5 separate regions of the Homo sapiens genome follow, and regions 1, 2, 4 and 5 are each reported to be linked to region 3. Evidence: microRNA targets listed by miRTarBase, many of them from high-throughput screens and not tested one by one. Region 3 holds a microRNA gene; each other region holds the end of a gene's coding sequence.

Evidence for each region. The annotated mature microRNA hsa-miR-4665-5p reads CUGGGGGACGCGUGAGCGCGAGC and lies in region 3 at 2,128-2,150, shown strand. An mRNA with a match to its seed (bases 2 to 7 or 8) in the 3' UTR can be bound and repressed. Matches are read on the target gene's strand: a 7mer-m8 pairs with bases 2 to 8, a 7mer-A1 pairs with bases 2 to 7 and ends in A, and an 8mer does both.
Region 1: miRTarBase lists WNT9B as a target of hsa-miR-4665-5p. Seed matches in the 3' UTR shown: 7mer-m8 at 3,387-3,393 and 8mer at 3,967-3,974.
Region 2: miRTarBase lists MEN1 as a target of hsa-miR-4665-5p. Seed matches in the 3' UTR shown: 8mer at 4,113-4,120.
Region 4: miRTarBase lists RCE1 as a target of hsa-miR-4665-5p. Seed matches in the 3' UTR shown: 7mer-A1 at 939-945.
Region 5: miRTarBase lists SECISBP2L as a target of hsa-miR-4665-5p. Seed matches in the 3' UTR shown: 7mer-A1 at 2,951-2,957.

The regions. Positions count from the first base shown.
Region 1 is chr17:46,875,868-46,880,867 of GRCh38, forward strand. It overlaps WNT9B (Wnt family member 9B), which reads left to right. Exons shown (of 4, transcript NM_003396.3): 4 at 378-4,693. The coding sequence ends at 851. It also overlaps a transcript of LRRC37A2 not described here. Among named protein-coding and RNA genes, the nearest start is that of WNT9B, 27 kb to the left of the region's middle. RefSeq lists enhancers at 552-1,152, 2,462-2,961.
Region 2 is chr11:64,800,165-64,805,284 of GRCh38, forward strand. It overlaps MEN1 (menin 1), which reads right to left. Exons shown (of 10, transcript NM_001370259.2): 9 at 4,870-5,034; 10 at 3,352-4,652. The coding sequence ends at 4,170. It overlaps MAP4K2 (mitogen-activated protein kinase kinase kinase kinase 2), which reads right to left and starts at 3,050. Exons shown (of 32, transcript NM_004579.5): 1 at 2,890-3,050; 2 at 2,721-2,778; 3 at 2,399-2,489; 4 at 2,255-2,319; 5 at 1,902-1,957; 6 at 1,546-1,593; 7 at 1,415-1,457; 8 at 947-1,019; 9 at 736-867; 10 at 600-662; 11 at 147-228; 12 at 1-52. The coding sequence starts at 2,985. RefSeq lists enhancers at 980-1,029, 1,120-1,169 and silencers at 2,680-2,859, 3,010-3,189.
Region 3 is chr9:6,005,708-6,010,831 of GRCh38, forward strand. It overlaps MIR4665 (microRNA 4665), which reads left to right and starts at 2,119; the gene lies at 2,119-2,197. BRD10 (bromodomain containing 10) reads right to left here and starts at 2,775. Exons shown (of 8, transcript NM_001017969.3): 1 at 1,488-2,775. The coding sequence starts at 2,080. RefSeq lists silencers at 1,243-1,302, 1,693-1,852, 2,043-2,272, 2,323-2,842 and enhancers at 1,443-1,672, 1,804-2,305, 2,306-2,805.
Region 4 is chr11:66,845,508-66,850,631 of GRCh38, forward strand. It overlaps RCE1 (Ras converting CAAX endopeptidase 1), which reads left to right. Exons shown (of 8, transcript NM_005133.3): 7 at 1-55; 8 at 353-1,045. The coding sequence ends at 588. PC (pyruvate carboxylase) reads right to left here. Exons shown (of 23, transcript NM_001040716.2): 19 at 4,713-4,957; 20 at 4,430-4,609; 21 at 4,104-4,352; 22 at 3,723-3,863; 23 at 2,913-3,640. The coding sequence ends at 3,392. Among named protein-coding and RNA genes, the nearest start is that of RCE1, 4.6 kb to the left of the region's middle. RefSeq lists an enhancer at 4,737-5,124.
Region 5 is chr15:48,987,918-48,993,019 of GRCh38, forward strand. It overlaps SECISBP2L (SECIS binding protein 2 like), which reads right to left. Exons shown (of 18, transcript NM_001193489.2): 18 at 721-5,009. The coding sequence ends at 4,327. Among named protein-coding and RNA genes, the nearest start is that of SHC4, 27 kb to the left of the region's middle.

The sequences.
Region 1 (5,000 bases), not on the chromosome of region 3:
GAGGCTGGGAGACACCAGTGCTCTAGCTGTTTATGAGATTAAGTTCTGAGTTGTCATCACTGAGTTGTGAACCGGGGCTGCTGTGTTCAATCATTGAGTTGGTGTGAACCGGGGCTGCTGTGTTCAGTCACTGAGTTGGTGTGAACCGGGGCTGCTGTGTTCAGTCACTCAGTTGGTGTGAACTGGGACTGCTGTGTTCAGTCGCGTAAGTTGTCTATTCCACAAGAACTCCAGGCCAAGGGGAGGAGCTGGGGCTGAGACCCTGGGTCTCTTTCCCATTCTCCTGCCTCTGCCCTGCTGGGGTTGGTGCTCTGGGGGCAGGCTCTGGCTGCTGGGCCCAGGCCTCTGACCACGCCTCTGTTCTGCCTCCCCCACAGGCTGTGAAGAGTGGCCTCAGGACCACGTGTAAGTGCCATGGCGTATCAGGCTCCTGTGCCGTGCGCACCTGCTGGAAGCAGCTCTCCCCGTTCCGTGAGACGGGCCAGGTGCTGAAACTGCGCTATGACTCGGCTGTCAAGGTGTCCAGTGCCACCAATGAGGCCTTGGGCCGCCTAGAGCTGTGGGCCCCTGCCAGGCAGGGCAGCCTCACCAAAGGCCTGGCCCCAAGGTCTGGGGACCTGGTGTACATGGAGGACTCACCCAGCTTCTGCCGGCCCAGCAAGTACTCACCTGGCACAGCAGGTAGGGTGTGCTCCCGGGAGGCCAGCTGCAGCAGCCTGTGCTGCGGGCGGGGCTATGACACCCAGAGCCGCCTGGTGGCCTTCTCCTGCCACTGCCAGGTGCAGTGGTGCTGCTACGTGGAGTGCCAGCAATGTGTGCAGGAGGAGCTTGTGTACACCTGCAAGCACTAGGCCTACTGCCCAGCAAGCCAGTCTGGCACTGCCAGGACCTCCTGTGGCACCCTTCAAGCTGCCCAGCCGGCCCTCTGGGCAGACTGTCATCACATGCATGCATAAACCGGCATGTGTGCCAATGCACACGAGTGTGCCACTCACCACCATTCCTTGGCCAGCCTTTTGCCTCCCTCGATACTCAACAAAGAGAAGCAAAGCCTCCTCCCTTAACCCAAGCATCCCCAACCTTGTTGAGGACTTGGAGAGGAGGGCAGAGTGAGAAAGACATGGAGGGAAATAAGGGAGACCAAGAGCACAGCAGGACTGAAATTTTGGACGGGAGAGAGGGGCTATTCCATCTTGCTTCCTGGGATGAATGGCTTGGAGCCAGCATGTTCTTGGGAGGTGAACTGCTGGGCTAGGAATGCCAAGGCAGGCAGTGCCAGCTGGAAGTGAAGGCGGGAGCCTGGCTGAGATGGGTCAATCGGGTCCTGTGGCCCTGCTCAGGTGCAGTGGGCTCCAGGTGTCACACACCTCCACCACTCCCCTGGTTTTGCTGTGCCAGAGATGGGGAGAAAGCACAGGTGGTAGAAGCCATCCGTTCAGAGAAAGGAGAGCTTTCTGTGCTTGAGTGGACCCGAGTGAGATCTGTGCCCTGGAGCCCTGTGTCCTTGATTTGGCTTTTCAAATATGCCTCCGCTGAGGCCTCATTCTTGTCTCGAGAGCTGGGTTATGCACACTCACCCAGCCGTGCTCAAAACTACCACCAGTGCAGGTAAGACAGGTGGGAGAACTAGCCACCAAGGCGGGACTCAGTGCACCTGAGGTTGAACAGGGAGACAACGGCCCCTCCCTGTGTTCCCTGCTGGCCAAAGGAATCTTCACTCCCAGCGCAGAGGAGGAGGGCAACAGCTTCCTGGTGCCTGGCAGTGACGTGGCGAGCTCAGTTTCTCAGCTGGCTCTTGAGTGAGCTTTGGTGACTTCCTGTGGCTGGGGCCTGCCTGGTCTGTGACACCCCCATACCAGCTGAGTTCACAATACTGAAGAACAGCTGGCTCACGAGCTATGACTTGAAGTTACATTTCTATTCTTGTGGCTGCTCATCTAGTTAAGGCTTTTGCCCTGGCTGGGGTTATAGGTGCTTGAGTCCTTGCTAAGCCTGGCTCCTGGGTAGCCTCCTTCAGTTCCTAATGGCCTCTCACTTGGCCCTCACTTTGGCTCTTACTTGAGGAGGAGACGTGACTTTGATAATTTCCTCAGATCCTGTGGACATTTTCAGCAGCACCTGCCAAGGCCCTCTGTGAAAGGAGGAGAGACTGGTACCTCCACACAGGCACACATGGATGCACAGCCCCTGGACCAGGCTGGGGGTTCCTGTTGCACATGCCTCTCTTGTTCAGGATGAAGACCTTGCAGGGGTCCCCTTGCTGGAGGCATTGTACTTCCCCAGAGTGGGGCCCGATGCCACCCAGGAGGAAGTGACTTCTTTCGGGAAGCCCTTGGCCACTTTGCTGGCCCTGCCACGCCCATCTGTCAGCTTCCTTTCTCCCTAAACCTAGAGTTGCTGACCCTTCACCAACACAGGAAATTTCAGAATCAGCTGAATGCTCAGAAACCTCGCCTGTGCCAGCTCCAGGACAAAGGCCCGCTGACTGTGCCCTGGCCAACTCCCTGAGACCTCCAAGGGCGAGGAGGAGCTGCCCAGTCTCCAGTGGATCAGGGCAGTCTGCTGGATGCTGGAAGGATTTTTGACTGCAGAGGCCCGGCTGAGAAGCCAAACTGACCTGAGCCCCTCTCGTTAAAATGACATTGCTGACCCAAGCACCTGGCCCACACCTTGGCAGCAGGAGAAAAATGGGGAGAGGGCTGGTTTTCTCCTTTCTTCCACTTCCCCACAGCATGGAGATTTTCTCTGCCTTCCCAATCCATCTTGCTCCTCCGAGACCCCAACTCTGCCTCCACCCAGGCTCAGTGCTGGGCGTAAGGCAGCAGGGACCTCACTGGCAGAGCAGGGGGCCTGGGAGCAACGTGGAGGCCAGAGCACCCTGATCCACCAACATGCCACCTGCATTCTGACTTCATGGCTGGCAGTGCCAGGGTCGTGGGAGGGCAAAGGGCAGGCTCTAAGGCATCTAGGCAGTGGCTGGCTGCTAACATGGACACCCCAAGTCAATGGCACAGTGCAGGTTCTGAGGGCTCCTTGGCTTGTGGGGTCTTCTCTGTCTGTCTCTCTCCCTCTCTTCTTCCTTGCTCTCATCCCTTTCTTTTCCAGTTACCCCTGAAGACCCACCTCGGCCCTCTTGGGGCCCCTGGGGACTAGAGTGACCACTGACCCCTCATTCTACAGCTTTAAGGGAAATGCTCACAGGGTATTTTTGTCTACCTCAAATATATAGTTTTTAGAGCAAAGGAGAATAATTTATATAGCTAAGATATATGAGAAAGTATTTATATTATTTATATAGTTGCTATATTTCACAGACAGCACAGGTGGGGTTTGTGTATTTTCCCGGAAACCCTCTGTCTGGGGAGATACAGCCTGACCTGACCGGGTCCCCCACTGAGCAGGAGGCCGGGTCGCTGGGAAGGAGGACAAACCTGTATTCCATGACTGGGTCTGTCTCGGAGCTGGTAAGCACATGTCCGCTCTGTGATGAGCCCTGGTGGGCTCCATCCAGACCCTCCTTGTGATGTTTTTGTAGATTTTCTGCCCTTCTGGGTCCAGGCCCCCTTCTTCTGCTCTGGCAAAAGTGTCTTACTCATAATGATAATGACAACGAGAATTCCCACACCTGGCATTTGTAAAGCACTTTGCTATTTAGAAACAAAAACTTTTACCCCTTTCATCTCACTTGATTTCTCCGTTATCTCTGTGAGGTAGGTGGGGCCACATTACTGTGGCCATTTTATAGATGAGGTCCAGAGATGGAGAGCTGTGCTCAAAGTCACACCTAAGAGACTTGTTCAATGAATATTTACTGAACATCTCCATAGACCAGGCACTACGGGCTGACCTGCTCTGAGCCCAGGAGCCCCAAAGCCTGGATACCACTGTGAGCCCAAGAACTCAGGGAAGCAGTTCCTTCCCAGGCTGTGATCCCAGCCTTTTGGATCTGGATGGCATGTTGGCACTTCCCCCAAGTGGAGTCCCATGTCTCAGGGGCTTTGGCTGCCTGAGAAGGCTGGAGAGACCAGGAACCCATGGAGGCCACTCCAAGGGGTCCTTCTGCCCACACTGCCCAAGAAGCTTGGGCTACACCACTGGGCCCCTCCCAACCTACAGATGAATTTTGATTGCTCTCATTTGTGTTTTGCTTGTAAAAATGAATTGTTTTCCACTGGATTTCTGGCTGCTTTTGCAAAAGTCAGCTGCGCTGGCAGACTGGGCCTGCATGTCCTCCTGCAGGCAGCTAGAGTGAGGGAGTCTAATGGACAGGATGCCCCAAGTGCCCCCGTTGCTCATGGATGCCCCTGCCTGCCTCTCATGAGCACATAGTCCTGTCCCCTGGTCTAGATAAGCCCAGCTTTCCTGGTACCCTTCATCACCTGGCAGACAGACAGCCCCATGCCAACCCTGGACATTACTTGCTTTTGAACCTTTCCTTTCTCAACAACCATGAACTTCAAATGCTTTCTGTCTCAGGACACTTTAGAATAACAATGGAAGCCATCACTTATTGAGCACCCCTTATGTCCATTTATTCAACCAATGATTATTTAGGGATCTCTTATTGAGCACCAGGCAGCATCCTGGGTGCTTGGTGCAGCAAGGAACAGGACCAAGTCTCTGCCTCATGGGGCTGACATCCTAGTGGGTGAGAAAGACAATAAACCAATAAATGACATGCCAGTTATTTGCATTTACTTTGTCTCAATTTATTGCAATAACTTTGCACATTGGACATGGTCCCCGTAATGGATAAGGAAATGGAGGTTGTGAGATGAGAAGCCTCCTCATTGCAACTGGCAGGCAGTGGGGCCAGGATTGGAACACAGATCTCCTGGCCTCCAAAGTATGGGATTTTTTTCCTCTGTACACTGGTATAGGTCGGGCAGGGATGGATCGCCCCATTTTATTGATTCTGGGTAAACTAAGGCCTAGAGGAAGGAAATAATCCATCCTGGATTACACACCAATTCAGACAGGCCAGAGCCTGCATCCTTCCT
Region 2 (5,120 bases), not on the chromosome of region 3:
CCAGCAGCTGTGTGAGGAGGGCCCGAGGGAGCTGCTGAGTCGTGAACGGGTGCTGGAAAGTGGGGGAGGGGGGTGATCAGGTTGGCCCCTGATCCAGGGCCCTGCTTTTGAGTACTGGGCCTCTCTCCCGGCCCCCTGCCTCCCACCTGCAGGAGCTTCTCTGCTGTCGGCCTCTTCTTAGGATTCTTGGTCAGGGCCAGTTTGAGAAAGTGGTGGAAATTCTGGGTCCTAGAAGGCACAAGAGCCCCCCAGCGCCAGATCCAGGTTAGCCCTCGTGCAGGGTGTCCTGCCAGCTGCCCTACCACCCCTCCAGAGGCGTCTGCTGGGCCCACCCAGGAAGGAGCCAGCCGAGGCCAAGGGCCACTGGCCGAGCAACGCTGCCTTGCGACACAGCGGCTCCTCCACCAACCCTCTGCCCTTCTTTCCTGACCACGCTGGGTCTTCAACCCACAGAAGGACCAGGCCCCTGACTCAGATGGTCTGTAGTAGCCCAGAAAGGACAGGGCTCTTGGGGTTGCCCCCCGGGAGTTGGCAGAGGCTGTTTGTCCACTATGGGGCTGACAGAAAAGGGGGTCCCGGCAGCAGGGTGTGGCCCTTACCAGCGAGTCTTATCTCTCAGTTTGGGCGGCTGGAAGCTGCTCTTCGACATGAGCATCAGGGCCCTGTGGAGGGCGCGAGGTCAGGGGCCACAGGCCGCAGATCAAGGGTCAGGTGAGGGGCAAGTGTTGGGCTGACCTCATGGGGTGCAGGTGGAACAGAGGGGGCTGCAGCTCGCCCAGCTCAATGGCAGTGATGCCCAGGGCCCAGACGTCACATAGCTCATTGTAGCCACCTTTGCGCTCCACAGCAGCCACCTCGGGAGCCATCCTAGAGGTGGGGTCACAGATGGGATGGCCGGGTGCCCTGCTCTGTGGCCCCTACCCCTCCGCCCCAGGCGCAGCCTCACCAGTAGGGAGTCCCAATGAAAGACCTCCTCTTGGCCACAGACGCTGTCAGCTCGCCTGACACCCCAAAGTCAGCTGTGGGGAGAAACAGCCACTCTCACCAGCCCTCTGGCTGCCACTCACCCTCCCACGCCCAGGGCTCTGGCTCGGCTGCACCTGGCAGGGCTCAGACGGGCAGGTGGCCCCGCTTGGTCACAGCTGCCGCAGGCCCTAGGCAAGGCCAGGTCCCTCTCCTGAGAGGGGTCAACCACCCTCTATCCCTGACGGAGTGCCTGGTCCCATGTCAACTCCGTGCAGACCCAACCTCCTCTATTTTCCAGCAGGGAGGGAGTACCGTTCCATCTTCTAAGCAGGGAAACTGAGACTCAAGTGGCAAAGTGACTTGCCCAGTGACACCCAACCCTTGAGTCCAGGGTAGCCGGGGAGGGTCCACAGAGCCCTCACCCTGATGGTGTCCCCAGGGTACTGACCCAGTTTGACATCTCCCTGGAGAGTGAGGAGAAGGTTGGCTCCCTGTGGGAATGGAGGAGAGACAATCCCATCTGGTGCCCCCGAGGGCCTCCTCCTCCCTCCCCAGGAGTGCCCCCAGCTAGGTGCCTACCTTGATGTCTCTGTGGATCTTCCCCTGAGAATGCAGGTGGTGGAGCCCCTGGCGACAAAGAGGAGTCCCTGAGAGCAGCCACCCAGCACTGTCCCACCTCCCCAAACCCCCTCTCAGGACTGGGGCCCCCCACTCAGGCTGCTTCTTCCTCCCCTCTCCCCAAACAGGAAGTGACTGAGCCAAGAGGGAAATGGACTGCTTCCGGCAACAGGGCTGGGGCCCCTTTTCCCCAGGACCTACAGCCCCTCGGGCCAGCCCCACCCGAGGCACTCCACCCGCCTCCCTGCTGGTCATCTGGGCTCCTGGCCCACAGCTTCTGGAGACCAGAGGTGTGGGCACCTCACAGGCCCAGCTACCTTCAGTGCCTCTCGGCAGACGTAGGCAATCTGCCGCTCCTCCAGGGGCCCAGTGGCTGAAAGGAAAAGGGAGAGGCTGGCTTGGGGGCCCGGGGGTCATGCCCACCCTCCCAGGCTACCGTGTGTGGGAAAAGCAGCAGGCACTGTTAAATGAAAGCGGTGTTGGCCACGTCCCCTCCCAGTTTAGTCTAGGATACTGAACCCAGAGATGGACAGTATTTCTCTCAAGGTCACACAGCCAGGCAGGAGTGGAGAGGAGCCCAAGTCCAGGGCCCAGAGTCCCCTCTGGTACCCCAGTGGGGTAGGGGTGGGGGAAGGCTGGGGCCTGCTGGGGCCTGGAGCCCTGGCCTCACCATGGTAAATCTCCTGCAGGGAGCCCCCTCCGCAGAACTCCATGCAGATCCACAAGCGGTCATTCCTAGGGACAAAGAGCTGGGGTGGGCACAAAGCAGGTCACATGGGGGCTGCCTGGGGCCAGGAGGATAAGGCAGCCTCACCTGAGGTAGCTGCCAATGTAGGCCACCACATTGGGGTGGCGGCACTCACGCAGGATGGTGATTTCCTGCTGGAGGGAGCTGATGTCGTCCCCTGGGAAGCACAAAGCATCATGGGGAAGGCGCGCTGGGGTTGCCCTGACTCAGTGCCCCCATCTGCAAAATGGGCACAGAGTGCCTCCCTCCGGGCCAGGCAGGTGCAGGTGACAGCACCTCCCGGGGCACGCCTCTCAGGGGTCTCGGAAACGTCAACCCTCCGCCCGCACCCCGCGCCCGCGGGCGCTCTGCCCTTCCTCTGGCGCAGAGGCCCGACCCGGGCCCTCACCTGGGTCTAGCTTGACTATCTTCACGGCGGCCAGTTCGGACGTGACCGTGTCGCGGGCCTGCAGGGGCGGAGGGTGAAGCGGGATGGGGGGCGGGGCCGGGGGCTAGATCCTGCCGCGGGGTGCGGGGCTGGCACCCTCCTCCCGGCTCTCCCGCCCGTCCCGTCGCACCTTGTAGACGTCGCCATAGGTCCCGGCCCCCACGCGCTGCAGCAGCTCGAAGCGGTCCCGCGGGTCCTGCAGCGACACATCCCGCAGCAGCGCCATGGCCCGGCGCCGGGCGGGCCGGCAGGCGGGCGGGCGCGAGCTGCGGAGCCGGCGCGGGGCGGCGCGGGGCGGGGCGGGCGCCCGTGGCTCTGAGGCCGCGGGGGCGGGGCTGAGGCCCGGGGGCGGGGCCGCGCCGGGGATGCCCCACCGCCAGTCCGGGAGGAGGCGCCCGCGGGACGGGCCCTCGGCGGCGCGGGGAAGCCCCAAGGCCGGGGCGGAGCCTACGTCCTTCCGCCGCCACTGTCGCTCGCGCTCCACAGGTAGGGAGCGCAAAGTCCCGGGAGCCAGAAGACAGAGGGAAGAGGGGGCGCTCCACTCCCCGCCCCATCCCCAATTTCCCAGATAAACATGGACTTGCGCTTTATATTTTTTTTAACAAAATGTATTCATCTTTCTTGGAACTGAAAAATAAATCTATGTACAAAACAGGAAGAGATCAGGCTCTTGTCACCCACTCCTAACCCTCTGCAGATTTCCTCCGGGATGCTCCGAGATGGGCTGGACCTCTGGGAGGTTCCCAGAGGGTCGGAAGGGAGGTCCTGCTCTGATCCGGGGCCAGTTTCGTCAGGAAGAGGGCGGGGCTCAGGATGCTCATAGGCTGGGGGCGGAGTTTTGTGTCCCAGACTCGGGATACGAAGGAGAGGAAACTAGGATTTCCAAATTCTGGAGCAGGACTGAAGTTATTTGGGGCAGGGAGCTTGGATTCGCAAGATATGGAATTCTGAAGTGCGGAAATATACTCCTAGGGGCTGAGTGGTCCTAGGCTCCCGGGCTGGAGGTGGGACCTGTGCTCCTTGGGTTAAGGGTGAAACCTCAGCTCCTACAAGCTGGGAGGAGCCCTGAGTAACGTTGGTCTGGCTCTAGGTGAGCGGTTCCGAGGAGGAGCTTGGGTTTCTAGGGGCTGGGCCTTTAAAGACTGGTAATTAGGACCCAGCGTGAGGTTTCCATTGGCCGGCTGGGATTCTGGGAGAAGAGACCTATATTCTAACGACTGGGGCAGAGCCCTGGGTTCTGAGCTGGAGAAAATCGTGGGTTTGATACAGACTGTACTCGGGACCGGGAACCTAGGGTTTGGGTAGAGGTGAGGCCTGTCCCCTTTGGGCTGGGGGCAGAACATGGGCTCAGAGTTGGGGGACTAAGGGCGGAGCCTGGGTCCCCACAAGCGGTCCGAAGTCCCCAGTAGTTCAGAGGCCTTTGCGCTGCCGCTTGAGGAAAGACAGAGTGTAGTCACTAGGGGTGGACACTTTCTGCTTCTTCATCTGCACTTGCGACTGTGCCGTGAGTTGCAGCTTGATGGCGCTCGAGTTGATCTTGGTGGCCACCAGCAGCTCCTTCATGCCCTTCATCTTCTCACTCTGGAAAGTGAGCACTGGACCCTCCGGCGGTGGTGATGCTGTGGGTGCTGGCACCTGAGCCGTGCTGCCACCTTCAGGGCCTCGGGCTGTGCCAGCGACAGTCCCAGGAGGCTTCCGGGGGGGTCCTGACACTGCACCCTGGCCGGTGCCCAGGCCCTTGTCCAGTGCTGGCTTCTTGGGCGGCGGGGGCTCCTCTGGCTTGGACTCCCGCCGTGGGCCCCGCCGCCGGCCTTCCCGGGCTTCCTCGCCCCACGGCTCCTCGGCCTCGGCCGCCTCGGCCTCTCGGCTCACTATGCGCACCTTCTGCCGCACCTGGGCCAGTGGGGAGAGCAAGGTGAGAGCAAGGTTGCCGGCCAGTGGCTGGAACTCCAGGACCCTGCTCTGGCCATCCCATCCCACCCAGGGGGTCTCAGTCCCATCGGCACCCAAGGGGATGGGCAGATGCTGCCCCTGGGCCAGAAAAGTCTGACAAGCCCGTGGCTGCTGTCACCACCTGTAGTGCCCAGACCTCTGTGCAGCTGTCCCTCACCTGTCCCTCAAAACGGCCTAGGGACTGCACAAGAAAGGTGGCCCAGCCCACATGCAGCACAGGCGTGGGACTGCCCTCCTCCCATTTGCAGATGCCGTCGTAGAATCGCAGCAGGTGGGCGAAGCACTCAGGGTCCTGGAGGGCGGAACCTTGGCTCTGGGTGCCCTGGACGAGGGGGAAGGGAGGGCACAGATCAGTCTCTTACTCACCCCTTAGCAGAGGGCACAGGCCAGGCCCCCCACCTAGGCAAA
Region 3 (5,124 bases):
ATAACTTCAAAATAATAACGTGAATGGATTGTTTTTTATGTGAGTCACAGCAATAATGCACTGTGGAGACAAGGGTAACAAACACACTACAGAAATACAAAATTACTAAAGTATTAAAAGTAATTTACAAAGCAAATATGTGAATAATTATTCTATTACTAAATAATCCTACTCTATGAAAGGATTCAAGAAGAGGTTCCTTAAAGAGAGCTCACTTAACGAAGACAGGCACTATGTTAACTGTTTTTGGTGAAAAAAATCACCGTTAGTCTTGAAAATGGCATATGGGAAGCCAATGACAAAGGTTACTTTTAAATTACAGTGACAAATCAAGAACCAAAAAATTAACACAATTTCTAGGAGCTATTCTGTAAGAGCACAAGTATAATGCCGTTTCAGATATGAAGTATACACTCATATTATTCAACGACTGCTACTACTTACATTAAAATGGCTAACACTTATACTTGGCTAACTATGGGAGCAGCACTGTTGATTTCACATTTATTAACTCATTAAATCCTCAAAGCAACTCTATGAGAGAAGTACTATTATTATCCCCGCTTGATAGATGAGGAAACTGAGGCCAAAAAGGTTAAGTGACTTGCTCAACTTAAATTCACTCTAATAGTAAACAGTCAAACTACTATTCCACTTCAACTACCAATACCAAAAACATTGAATTTTTCCACTCCCGAAAAATTTAAACTTTAGAAATTAACTTGGCTGACACAGACTATACAATTATTATAAAACAATACATTCATTTTAGTATCCTCCTCTTGTGTTAAATAATTGGATATATGGGTGGCGGATACCAAGAGCACAGTATCATCTGACTTGCCTATGATTTCTGGTAGAATAAACATAAATGTATAAACTTTAAAAAATGTGTGTTGATGCATTCCCTATTATTGCAAAAATTGGGTGTCCTCAGATGAAACGGAGAGAAAAGATCAGTAGTATGCAAAAGTAACCATTAACCATTTAGTAACACTCCATAAATCTTCGATGACCGACATGGGTAGTAAATGATAAAATTATTTTTTAATGGTTTAAGACACCTTTTTACATAAGCCAAAATTATTTTTCTAGAGATATTTCATCCTAAACGCTGTTTTAAATGTCATGCTAAAACTGTCTAAAAGTTGCAGGTCCAACTTCCATCCCACAAAAACTGTTCCTCTGCCTACACGTGCAATTCTTCCTACGGGACCCATTCCATTTTACATCTGCAAACTATACCCAGCTCTTCAGCGCTGCAGACTCGGGTTTCCTTCTCAGTCTACGCGCAAGCCGGGTTCGGCCCACACCCACCACACCCCTCCGGTCCCCGCCCAGCGCCGCTCCTCCTCCCGGGCTTCTCCAGCACCGACTCAGCACCTATCAGCGCCGCCCCCAGGCCCCTGGCCCAGCCCATCCTCGGGCACGTGTGAGTGTGTGTTTGTGTCAGTCTGTCAGTCCCACCGGGGACCGGGCTCGCTTACCGAGAGAGAAGCGCTAACTTCTGCTCCAGCATCATCTCCAGCTTCTGGCCCTGTTTGGAGATCCAGTGGTCCACTCCGTGCAGGCGGTAGCACGTCTCCAGCATCAACCTGAAGTCCGCCACGAACTCGGTGATGCCCCCGTACTGGCCGCTGGCGAACTTCTCTTCCATCTGCAGCAGACACATGCCCTGTCCGGGCTGCTGCGGGAAGGCGCGACCGCCCCGGCCCCCGCTGCGCGGCCCTTCCGCCACCTCCTCCTCCGCGGTGGCAACGCCCCCCAAGGGCTGCAGAAAGGGGGCGGTGAGGCCCCGGTGCTTCTCCTGCAGGAACTCGCCCAGGATGCGGTAGCCCTGCTGTAGCTCGTAGGTCAGCTCCTGCTCCTTGCAGCAACCGCCTCCGATCACCATCGCCTCCATCTCTTCCTCCTGATCGTCCGCGTCCTCCAGCGAGGAGGCACTCCTTCCGTGGGCCGGCCCTGAGGTCTGGGCCGCCGCTGCCACCTCCTCCTCGTCGTCCTCTCCTTCGGCCGCCGGTGGCGGCCGCTCTTCCTCCCCAGCCGGCTCCATCGCTCCCGGCGTCCCGGGCACACTCATGCCCCGGCAGGCCTAGGCTGGGCGGTGTGGAACAGCCGCTCGAGGTGCTGGGGGACGCGTGAGCGCGAGCCGCTTCCTCACGGCTCGGCCGCGGCGCGTAGCCCCCGCCACATCGGGCCTGGCTCTCCTCAGCCGCCGGCTCGGCTCGGTGCGCGCGGGGGTCTTGAGCTCACCGCCGGCGGGGCGGGGTTACATGGCGCGCGAGGAGGGGGGAGAGAAGAGGAGAGCCTAGGTGCCCTCCTCTCCCCTCCCCCCCGGCGGCGGCGCGCGCACGGCCCTCGCCGGCCTCACCCCTCCGCACCCCGCCCGCCTGCTCTTCACCGGCCAGGCCCTGCCGGGTCGCCGCGGCCTCGGCGCCCCACCCCCTCCCGGGCCAGCGGGGGGCTGGGAGGGGGCGAGGAGGAAGGGGGTTCTCCTCTCCCCTCCCCGGAGGGGGCCGCAGCGGCGGCTCCGGCTCCTCCTCTCCCTCACACCCCCTCCCGCCCCCCTCTACCTGCGGGGGACACGGGCAGAAGGAGGCGGTGCACGGACGGGGCCCGGCGACAACTGTCAGTTAGAAGCCCCGCTGGGCGGTGAGGGGGGAGAAAGGGGAGGGGCAGGGAGAGAAGGGGGAGGGCACTCAGCCCCCCGGCTGGGAAGAGCTGTGGAGAGAAGCAAAGAAAGAGGCCCTGTCGCCATCCCCGGTGCGCATGCGTAGTAGAACAATTCCCCCCTCCCCCCCCGCCACCATCGTGCCCCGCCCCGCTACGCAAAAGGAAGAGCTTCGGCTCAGCTACAGGCCCAGAAGCCTGCTAGGGTTGCGCGGACCAATGATGTAATCAATCGTAGGCCAATCGAACATGTTGATGGAGGGGGAAGCAAGGCGCCTGCGCAGCTTAATTCGCTACCGCCTGGGAAGGTGGCCAAAAGGCTTTTTTTAAAGCAAGTGCTTCAAGAGGAAACTTCTTTTGCAAGACCCGTGTTAGCCCCCCAAACTAAAATTAAAGTTGCTAGATAACCTTTGTTAATGGCAAATGAATAGTGAGAAAGCGCAAAATGTAAATCTTCTCTACTATAAAATTTACATTCTGTTCCCACCCTTTCTCCCTTGTGACTGCGGGTCTTCTATATATAACCAGAATTTTGAGAAGTTTAGAAAGAAAGTTTAAGGACTCGACCATACGTTCACATGCAGAAGAAAAGGAAGTGATTTTTAGAACCCCAGCTCTTAACATCAATTCATATTTTGGAACTAATTCCATGTTTTCAGTTACAAATTTCCACCCTCCCGATTCTTGAGATCTGTTAAGAATAAAGAGAATGGAACCTCATTTAAACAAATTCTTGGGACTGAAAACAGTCAAAATAGTTCATGTCTGAGTTGTACAGCATTAAACAGTTGTTTGCATGGGCTGATAATCTCACTACATTTTACAATTACTGTTTAATGACTAAAAAGTGGACTCATCATTCACATTGGTTTACATGTTACTTAAAATTAGTTGGGAGGTAGGAATTCATGGTTCCATAAAGCAAATACTACTATTTCCTCATGTTCTATTTGAAAGACGCACATATTATTTTTTCTAGGTACACAGAACCCTCGTTAAAACCTAGAATTACCTAAACACAAAAACAAAATTACAGAAATCATGCATTTTAAAAGTAAAATGTGTATAACTAAATGATTAGGATACTCTGACTCTTGCAATTGTTTACTTCTCATTAATGTGAACTTTAAAGCAGTGATAAAATTTTTTTTTAACCTCAAAGCTGTTTTTGTCCAGTAAGTTAAGTATCACTCTTAAGTAAAATAGTGAAGCGGGAACGCTCTGTTAGGGTATTCACACTGTCCTCCACACATACCTTTTATCTAGTATTCGAGGTCTCCTCTCATCAGACATTTGTAATATATAACGCATTTACAGGGTTCTCTCCCCTCAGAGAAGAGTCTGTGGACTCTGAAGAGTCCACAGAACCTCAGCTCACAGAAAGAAAAATGCAGGGATCAGTCTTACTTCAGCACCTGGCAACCAAAACGTGTGTCTGACTAGACATTCCTCCTTTCTTTCGACAAAGCCCAGGAATCTGAAGCCCAACGTACCCAAGCAAACATCCTCTACTCCTCTTTAGTCATCAGCTCTATTTCATGACTCTTGGACAATATTAGCTTACATTATTGAACCCTGTGCCACTAAGCACTTTATATTCATTGTCTCCTTTAATCTCACAACAAGCCTATCAGCTAGGTATTAACCTTATTTTTCAGATGAGGAAACTGCCTCTTAGTTTAAGAAAGTTGTTAAACAAAGTTAAAATCTAGGTCTGTCATACTTCAAAAACTCCAGGTGCCTAATTCCAAGTCATCTGGCAGAATTTCTAATTCCTCATACATAAAAGTGTAGGGAATTGCTAGAAATGTTGATAAAGGGTTTCTTAATTAAGATTATATAAAAGAGAAAGGTGTGGGTGAGTAGAAGGAACCTCAACTCTAGGTTATGAAGAGGTCAAGATGATAGCAACTTAACTATAATGAAAGTAGGATCGGGTCCTTGATCTTAAAAAAGAAACTCTATTACACAAGAAATATGGGCTGGGCACGGTGGCTGACACCTGTAATCCCTGCACTTTGGGAGGCTGAGGTGGACAGATCACCTGAGGTCAGGAGTTCTAGACCAGCCTGGCTAACATGGTGAAACCCCGTTTCTACTAAGAATACAAAAAATTAGCTGGGAGTGGTGGTGCGCACCTGTAATCCCAGCTACTCGGGAAGCTGAGGCAGAATTGCTTGAACCTGGGAGGCGGAGGTTGCAGTGAGCCGAGATCGTGCCATTGCACTCCAGCTTGGGCAACAAGAGCAAAACTACATCTCAAAACAAACAAACAAAACAAGAAATATGTTGGTTGTAGGTATGTAGGTAAATTAGAAAATATAGGTAAGTGAGGAGAAAATTTGCCACTTAATCCTACCACCTAGAGAAAACCTCTATTAATACTTTGAGGTGGGATTTTTCTATTCATTCTTCTATACTTTATTTATCTTAAATATACTAAAAATTGTGATC
Region 4 (5,124 bases), not on the chromosome of region 3:
TTCTCCTACACAGCTGTCTTCGGTGCCTACACTGCTTTCCTCTTCATCCGCACAGGTTGGTCCTCAGTCCCTCATGGGTCCCTGGGGGCCCACAGGAGCGGGTGGGAGAATGGGAATACTGTTTGTTCTAGGAACAAAAGTTCTTCTACTCCAGTCCTTGAGACAGGCTGAGCCAGAGCCCTCAGCCTGGTGAGGTCTGAGAGGTGGAAAGGAGCAGAGGCCGTGGTGTGTGGGTGGATGGCTGGGGTAGTGGGATCTTGATCTCCTGTTTCAGGGGATGAGGGTCACTAGCCCTGGAAGGGCCAGAGGAGGTGGTAGGGCTGCTCCCTGAGCTGCTGTCTCTTTTCCCCAGGACACCTGATTGGGCCGGTTCTCTGCCATTCCTTCTGCAATTACATGGGTTTCCCAGCTGTTTGCGCGGCCTTGGAGCACCCACAGAGGCGGCCCCTGCTGGCAGGCTATGCCCTGGGTGTGGGACTCTTCCTGCTTCTGCTCCAGCCCCTCACGGACCCCAAGCTCTACGGCAGCCTTCCCCTTTGTGTGCTTTTGGAGCGGGCAGGGGACTCAGAGGCTCCCCTGTGCTCCTGACCTATGCTCCTGGATACGCTATGAACTCTCACCGGCTCCCCAGCCCTCCCCACCAAGGGGTACTGCAGGGGAAGGGCTGGCTGGGGTCCCCGAGATCTCAGGAATTTTTGTAGGGGATTGAAGCCAGAGCTAGTTGCGTCCCAGGGACCAAGAGAAAGAAGCAGATATCCAAAGGGTGCAGCCCCTTTTGAAAGGGGTGTTTACGAGCAGCTGTGAGTGAGGGGACAAGGGGCAGGTCCCAGGAGCCACACACTCCCTTCCTCACTTTGGACTGCTGCTTCTCTTAGCTCCTCTGCCTCTGAAAAGCTGCTCGGGGTTTTTTATTTATAAAACCTCTCCCCACCCCCCACCCCCCAACTTCCTGGGTTTTCTCATTGTCTTTTTGCATCAGTACTTTGTATTGGGATATTAAAGAGATTTAACTTGGGTAACATGGCCTTGGGCCTTTGGGAATCGGTCTATTTGGGATCTTGTGTGAAGACTCTAGGCAGCTCTTGGGAGTGTGCCCACCACCTGTCCCAGCTACCTTGAACACTGACATCTGGGCGGTGCATCCAGGCGGGTAGTTCCCTGGAGTACAGGATGGGCTGGGAGCTCTGGTTGCTGGGAGCCTGTGGCTTCCTCCTTCCTGAACCATGCCCCAAAGTCCTAGTGTGGTTGGCTCTGAGACTGCAGGTACCAGGTGTGAGCCCAGCTCATCCTGGGGCCTGTGCCTTGGCTGACGGGTCAGGGAGTGGGAACCATGGCCCTGGCCCTGACCTCAGCGATGGAGCCTCCGACGTATCTCCTCTGAGGGGAAGATGACTGGCCTGAAGCCTCTGCCAGGACCTCCACAGTCTGCCAGTCTTGTTTTTCACAAGAGGAAATAGGTCCCTGAGTCACCATAAGTAGAGGCTTTTCTGGTTCTCTCCACCTCTGACCTCTGCCCCAGAGGAACCCAGAACACAGGCTGCAGCCCTGAGGGCAGCAGGGACTTTGCCAAGCAACACAGTGACTCCAGGGTCCTTCTCGGCACCTGCAAGTGTTCTGCCTGCTCTCCATCATTTTTGGAAGGGCTCTCGTTTCCCTGCCTGTGCTCTTTTAAAATTAGATTCCTGAAAGAGTATTAGCCCTGGATTACTTGAGGTCAGGAGTCCGAGACCAGCCTGACCAACATGGTGAAACCCGTCTCTACTAAAAATACAAAAAATTAGCCGGGCATAGGCGGGGCGTGGTGGCAGGAGGCTAAGGCAGGACAATCACTTGAACCTGGGAGGCACAGATTCCAGTGAGCCAAAATCACACTACTGTACTCCAGCCTGGGTGACAGAGCGAGACTCCATCTCCGGGGTGGGGGGCAGGGGGGGCGGGGGAGGGAAGAAAGCCCTTTAGGTCCCATTCCCCAATCAAGGAGGTTGTCCCAAGGTCCCTTCTCTGAGGCTGGCCACTGAGGGAAAAAGGATGTGCGGTCACTCCCCCACGATGCCTGCAGGCTGGCCATGACAACGACATCCACCCGGATGGAAGGGGCAGCATCGCAGTCATCTGCCTCCTGGGGTACATCTAGGACATGGCGGTCCAGAAAGGAAGAGGCTCAAGCCCACTGTGAGTTGCCCATCCCAGAGGTTGGACTGGCTCTGGGAGCACTGGGCAGAGGCCTGCTGGGTGCTTCCCATCCAGAGGCTGATTTCCTGCATCGGCCTCCCCACACCCACCCCTCCATCTCAGGAACTGCCCAGCCTCCTGCTCCCTTCACCATCCTCTCCCTACCTGTGGGCAGGTGGGCAGGAGGGCAGTGGTGCAGGCAGGGTTACTGTCCCCACTGCAGGAAAGGGAACTGAGCAGGAGTCTGGAGGGGTGGTCATGGGGAGTGGCAGGGTTAGAACCTGAGACCCTGGACCCGGTGCTCCCCCTCACCTCCCACCAACATTCTCACATCCAGAGCACACACAAGACTCCCGGATCACCATTCCCGAGGGTCTTACCCACTGCCCACAAGGTGGTACCTGCTTGCATTTACCTGCTAACTGAGGTGGGACGCTGGCCTTGGGTTTTAGAAAATAAAGCAGCGGGGTTGGGAGGCGAGTCTGCCAACGGCCTGGGTTTCATCTCTCTCTCTTACTACTTGTGAAGTCCTGGACAAATTATTTAATCTTCCTGTGACTTGATTTCTGTGTCCATAAGAGGATGAAGGTTAATTCCCTGTGTTAATAGGTGTTAAATACTTAGAACAGGCCCCACCCCTCAAGCAAGTTCAGTACTACTAGTCCTGTTTGGGGAGTATACACAGTAGGCACCCAATAGTGACTTAAAACAGGGCCACGATGGTCATTCTCACTACCCTCTGAGGAGAACGACACAACTGACCTGCCCACCCATGGGGAGCTTGAAAGGCAGCCCCCCACTGCTGAGTGGTGCAGGCTGGGGGCTGCACAGGATCCAGCATGGAGGGCAGGGGAAAGCCAGCTTTATTGAGTAAACTTCCCAGGACCTGGGACATCTTAGATCTCCCCTTCCCCCAGGAGATAGGACCCCTAAACCTCCCCTGGGTCCTAGGACCACCTGACCCACCACTTGTAGTCTCCAGTGAGGAGGGGACCCTTATTTGGCAAGAGATGAACATGTAAGCAGCTGTCCGCCGGAGGAAAGGACGATGGCTGAAAGGAATGAACCACCGCAGGCGGTGTCTCTCCTGTCCAGCTGTGGACAGGACCTCCACGGCCCGGCCTTCCTGGCCTCGGGCACTGGCTGGCCTGGGCCTGCCGTGGCAGCACAGCTTCTGTTGAAGGCTTGGGGATGGCCAGGCTGCCGGTCTGGGGCAAGATCACTCGATCTCCAGGATGAGGTCGTCACCTTCCAGTGTCATGTCCTTGGTCACATGAACCTTGCGGACAGTACCCTCCATGGGTGAGGTCACCACAGTCTCCATCTTCATGGCACTGAGCACACACAGGGGCTGGCCCTTGGCCACCTTGGCCCCTGCCACCACTTTGATGTCTATCACCTTCCCAGGCATGGGCGCCCCGATCTGGCCCTTCACGTCCTTTAGGGCCTTGGGGTGGAAGTGCATCTCCTGAAGACACAGGGCAGAGGGGACATGACATCCTGGGCCCAGCCAAGCCCCACCGCCTGGCTGGCCCTGGGGGAGACAATACCTTCATGGCCTGGGTGTCCTTGACCAAGATGGACCGCAGCTGCCCATTGAGCTCAAAGAAGACCTGCCTCTGGCCGGCCCGGTTCAGGTCGCTCACGGCCAGGGCTTTGATGTGCAGCGTCTTGCCCCGCTCCAGCTCCACCTGCAGGGAGGGTGTGCAGACTCAGAGCTGGACGCCAAGGTGGGAGAGCAGTCCCCCGGCCCTGGCCATAGGAAGTCCCCACACTGGGCCTTGGCTCCTCGTTCCTAAAGGCCTAGCTCCCGGTCTCAAGGGTCCTTTCTGCTCCCAAAGCTTGCGAGGCTGGGTGACAGCCAAGCTAAACTCCAGAGCTCTGGGGCAGGGGGCCAGGGTGGAGTGTGGAGAAGCGCCAGAGCCACTGACCTCAAACTCCTCTGCGATCTTGGGTCCCTGCAGGAAGAGGCGAGTATTCAGGCTATCCAGGGGGCCAAAGGTGGCAGTGAAGTCCTTGAAGTGGGCAAACACATCGGGGTACATAGCTGCTGAGAGCACATCTTCCGGCGTCACCTCCTCCCCATGCCGGTCTACCAGCTCCTTCTCCAGTGCCTGCAGATCCAGGGGAGGGAGGGAGGCTCCAGGCCGCCCCTCCACCCTTGGCAGGTCCTTCAGTACCTGGGGAGCAAAGCAGAGGATCAGTCCCAAGTCCTGCATCCAGCCCCCACCCTCACACCATGCTGGGCCTTCCCTACCTTAGAGCGAAAGGGTTCGGGGAACCCCCCATGGGGGACACCGATGTAGCCCTGCAGGAACTCCACCACGGAGCGGGGAAAGGACAGCTCTTCCGCCTGAGCTTCGGCCTCTGCCCGGCTCAATCCATTCTGCACCATAAACTGGGCCAGGTCCCCCACGATCTTGGAGGAGGGCGTCACCTGAGGAGAAGGCCCTGGAGGTTAGGGTGCCAGGCACCTCAAGGAGGCCAGTGGCAGGTGCATGCAGGGCTGGGTCAGGTAAGGAGCACCGGGCCGGGCTCACCTTGATGAGATCGCCCAGCATCTGGTTGGCCTCCACATAGGCCTTCTTGACCTCCTTGAACTTGGAGCCAAGCCCCATGCTGTGGGCCTGGAAGTGCAGGTTGGTGTACTGGCCCCCTGGGATCTCATTTTCATACACGTCCGAGTTGCCAGACTTCATGGTGGCCGTGCAGTCGAAGGCCGCGTACAGTCCCCGAGCCCCCTCCCAGTACTCACTGTAGTCAAACACGCGCTCCATGGGCACCTCTGCAGGGAGGCCAGAGTCAGAGGAGGCCTTAGAAATGTGTGACTCTTCCAGGACCCAGGGCTAGCTCAGGTCCCATGTCTGACTCAGGTGACAGAAGGCGGCAAGGCCAGAGCAGGGCATCTGGATCCTAGGCAGGTCCAACACTACTGGGACTGGTGGTGGCTGC
Region 5 (5,102 bases), not on the chromosome of region 3:
AGGCATTCTCCTTCGCTTTGTGATCACCAAAAAGTTCATTTCTTTGTTATGAAAATTAGTATCCTATTTTCTGACAGATGAATGCACTTTTTCAGATTCCCTACATTTCACTGTGACATAGTGAGAAGTCCTGGGGCTACTTAGGGAAAGGGCGATGAGGTGAGGCCCAATAACTTTAGTCCCCAAGGCCCTCTTCAGTCCTCCTGTTCCACATTCCCAAAGACACCTGAAGGTGAAGGAAGCATGTTTGCCTTGCACACCCTGTGCACCTTATGCCAAGACATAACAAAGTACAGTGATTGGGGCATGGGCTTTGGTATGGGGCTGGGTTAACATCTCCATGACTCTTCCATCATCTGAAAAGTGAGAAATAGTAACCAAAATCTACTTCACAGGACTGTTTTAAGGATTGAGTTAATACTGGGAAAAGACTTAGAACAGTGCCCAGCACAGAGGAACTAATATAAAAAGGTGAAGGAATCTATAGAAGCCTTCTCCTAATAACCAGGATGGTCTCTGGCTAAACGCCTGGGCCCATGCCGCAGATCACACCAACCATCCCAGATGGAGATTTTTATTCTTAACTCCTTCGTGACGATTTTACAGCCTTTTTTGGCAACTCCATATGACCACCAATCAATACTCAAGCTGGACTCTTTTTTCTGTCTTCTACTTGTGGGGAGTCATGAACTCTTGAAGTATCTCTTCTGAAAGGACAGATTTCATTTCAATAATCATTTTATTAGTACAGAAGAATCCCCACTAGTATTTACATAGTGCAAAAAAGCTGTTATTACCCCCCAAATGTGATATAACAATTATCCTTCATACAGCAAAAGATGAAAATCCCTTCATGTTATAACTCACACTAATTTTGCTAGTTTTTTATTAGAGCATTACAATTAAGACATTAAATTATAAACTTATGTGGTATATTTAGAAATTAAATTATAAAATAATACAAATACTTTCAAGGTGTGATGTGCCAACAAAATTTAAATTTTTCTCATTAGGATTCAGATTTCAGATTAGGCAAACAGTTTGGTTGATTCTGTGATGTATGTAAAGGTTGGAAGGGATGAGGGAGGAGGAAGATGTCTGTAAATAAATTATTTCACAGAATTTTTTTAAATCAAAAAAAGATAAAAATTTTTAAATGAGTTGATGTTCTAACCTGTTGGCCCAACATACAGAAAATACATGACAAGGGTGTTTTTTTTTTTTAAGCAAACAGCAGCTTTACAAACAGTAATACTTCTTTATACATATATTAAAGTAACAATGTGTTAAGATTGAACAGTTTCATGTTAAAGAGTTGAAAATGAGTGTAGCATTCACTACTCATTTGCACATTTCAATTCCCACCCCTCCCTCCTCCCCCAGCTTATTTAGAAATCAGACAAGTACATATTTGGATATTAATTTCTCAGTATTTAAACTATGTGAATTCCTTTTGACTAATTCTTTTCCAAATACTGGAATCATATAAAATACCATCTCTGCAAAAACAACCTCCAGTCAAAGCCAGTAAAAACTTCTCAATGTATAACACACATTACTTTTCCACATTTAGTCAAAAGAAATATATTACATCATTTACAAACATATTTAAACCGAAAATTAAGCTAATATGAACATCTGTCTTTTGAGAAGTAATCTTCACAGCAAACAAACCTACTGAAGCAGAAATCTAACTTTGGAAGTGTAATTCATATTTTAGTTAATATGCTTACATACTGAAATAGAAATCTATTATTAATTATTGCCAGTAAAACCACCTCTACACATTAAGAGAAAAAATCACTATGTTTTTTATTTCTTGTGATGATGAACCAACCCTTACTCTTCCCACTGGATCTCTTTATAGGTCTTCAAAGAGCCAACCATGCCCACTTCAAAAAATATATAAAAACTTTCCTAATTTTCACAACTCCTCCAAAGCCTGTAATTCAATATTCCAAAATTTAAAGGAAACAAGTTATAAAGACATTATTAATATTTATTTAAGCATGCTCTCAAAATGGTAACATTTCCTTTAATAATTCTTGGGTTGTCCTCTAGAGGTGACCTGTCTCATAAAAAGGCTATGGTCCCTTGGATTTGCTGGCAGAAGAGGTACTGCATATGCGAGAGCATTTACCGAACATATAAATAAACACTTCTGAAGTCTATAGCAAAACTAAAAGTTACCAGTGTTCTGAAGATTTCCTCAACTTCTCTTTTGATACAAATGTCAAAAATCTAAAATGACAATTCATGTTCAGAAGAGATATAAAATATAAGAAACCTGTGAAAAGCCATCATCTCAAGGTCAAGAGTTATCTGAATCACTGACATCGAGCAAAGGAAATTTACACCATAAAAAGTATGAACAGTTTTTAAATTCACTTTTAAGACTGTCAGTAGTTCAAAACCTCTATCATTTCTTTAAACCAACGAACACTTCCAAATGTGTAGAGACAGTAAGATCTGCCATGTATAAATCCATGAGTACTATTTCAGAGGCTTCATTCCTTACCTGCTGTGTTCCTTTAAATATTGGATATTTAGTGCCTAGGAAGTCTATACTGGAGAACAGTTTAGACAGGACAGTATAAGAATGTCCCCTTTTAGCACAATAATAAAGTTGATTGACTAACATTTTCTACACAGCTCCTGAACTTTCACAATTCACAAATACTAAATCATCAACCAAGAATCCAATCTCTCCAGTAATTAAATGCCAGCATTATAAAACATCAAAACTAGCACAGTAGTCCCAATGAGTTCAGTAAAGAATCTGCCCAATTCTTCTCTCCTGCCTCTGTGAGGCAAAGCCCTGCCCCAGATAATCAGGGCAGGGATAATACCCCTTCCTTCTCAGTTTTGTGCCTGCTTATGGAAGCTTGTAAGTGGAAAACACACACACGTACGGATGTGTGCATGTGTGTGAGGGGGGTGGGGGGGACAGTTGGGGGTGGTGGGGAGTTGGATGGAAGACAAAAAAATTACATAGTTTGTCATTCTTCCACCATTACATAAACTTGTAAAGTCACTGAAGTCCAGGTGGTGACTGACTAGCAAATAAAACATTTAGCTCATTTATTGTCTCCTAAGCAGGTATACAAACTCCTAGAGAAGGGCAGAGATAAATAATAGTGAATAGAGAATTAATACCTACATATCTGTATACTCTAAATCATCTAATAGTTTCAGCACAATTAGAACAACTTTCTCTTATCTTCTAAAACTTCCTCCTCTAAGCCTTGATTATCAGGATACATGTCACAAGTTGTGCAAAGTTCCTTTCCTTGACCTCCTGACAGTAACTATGGTCATTGCTATGTGGAAGGTGCTCAAGGCTAGGTGCAAAATAGGTATTTTTTAAAAGGTGAAACAGTTTTGCACTCAGGACAAGTTTGGATACTCAATCAAATCCATATCTCAAATCAAGAGTCCTGAACCAGAAGCATGCAAGAGAACACACCAGTATAAGACTCTGTTTCTGAAGAGTTTACATGTAAGTGCAGCAGTCATACAATCGGTTACAGTTATTCACCTGTCAACATGTGCCTAGCTTTTTGTAAATAAGTCTATGTACAAGAGCATTCCTGAGGTAAGTAAGAAGCAAATATGAGACAGAACCTGGAGGTCCTATCATGGGTGACTGTTCACTATTATAGACAGCATCTATCACTTTCCACAAATGAGGCTAGCTAGCTATAATCTAAGATGGTGGCTCCACTGCTAGCCGAAGTTTTGAAGGCTCTGTTTTAGCCCATCCCAACACTAATTAATTACAATAATCAGTGACTTCTGACTAAACATTTGTGGACCACATAAAAGTTGCATTGATTTTTTAACATACAACACTGGTGGACTTAGTTACCCTCAGCCTTTCATTTAATTTTCTGACTCCACCCCCAGTTCTTTTTTAAAGAAGCCCAAACAATTTTTTGGTCAAATTAGAGTAGAGGAGGTGGAGTCCTGAAGCAAACACTGATAACTGCTTCTATCCTTAGAACCTTGTTCTTTAACTTTCAAAATGTCTTTTAAGTAAGCATTTGAAATTTATTTTCTTTAAGATCTGGTCTTCTTTTTATCACTGTTTTTGATTACAAAATAAGCTGAAACAGATCTGAATTTTCCACACAGTTCTTAGAAAGACACTTAGATACTAATTAAAAGCTAAGCTACAGATCATAACAAGTAAAAGCTACAAAAATATTTGTTGGGAATTAAATACGTATATTAAATACTGGACAGTGCAAAATGTTGAGATGAAGCATAAAAGGTAATGGCTGCAACCCTTCCACAGCTGGAGATAGAGAGCCGACATTTCCTGAGTTACGTAGTTTGCGTTGTGTAATTAGAATCAGAGTGCTCTTTGTTGAGCGAGCTGCAGTTGCTGGACTTCTGCTGCCCAGGACTGGCCTGCTGGTCAGCAGTCCATGCCTCACTGTCCATCCCTGGCTCCAGCACCTCAGGCGCCTCTGCTTCCTCTTCTCCACTTTGCTCTACATTGTCTTCCTCAGAACCATTAAGGGTTTTTCCAAGCTGAAGGGTTTCCATAGTTCTCTGGGTCTCTGAGACCCAAGACTCAATTCTACTATTGAGCTGCACTTCTACAGATATGGGTTCATGAGTATAATCTTCCTCCTCCTCCTCATCTTCATCTTCTTCTTCTTCAAGCATGCCAGGTACAAGAGTGCTGGTGGTGCTGGTGATGGAGGAATTCAAAAGATCTCGGCAACTGCCATCCAAAGAGCCAGTCTCTGTACTCTGCTGTGAGGCCCATTCCAGGTCATCTGGCTTCACTTCCTCTTTATCACTTGCTGTGGATTTCCCAGCACTTGTAGCTGAGGTAGTACTGCCTGTAGCCACTAATGATGGCTGCTTACCAATTGGGGGTGTGTCAAATGGAAGTTTACTGGGTTTTTCAGAAGTGCTGTGCTTACAGGATACCTCTTTCTCATTTTCTGATGCTTCCAGTCCATCTGAAGTTTCCACCATGTTTCTCCAATTTGTTTCTACAAGTATCAAGCAGATTTTTTAAAAACCAGAACACTGTTTCAAAATCATGCAACTCTTTAAAAACCCCCAAAAAAGAAAGAACAACAAAA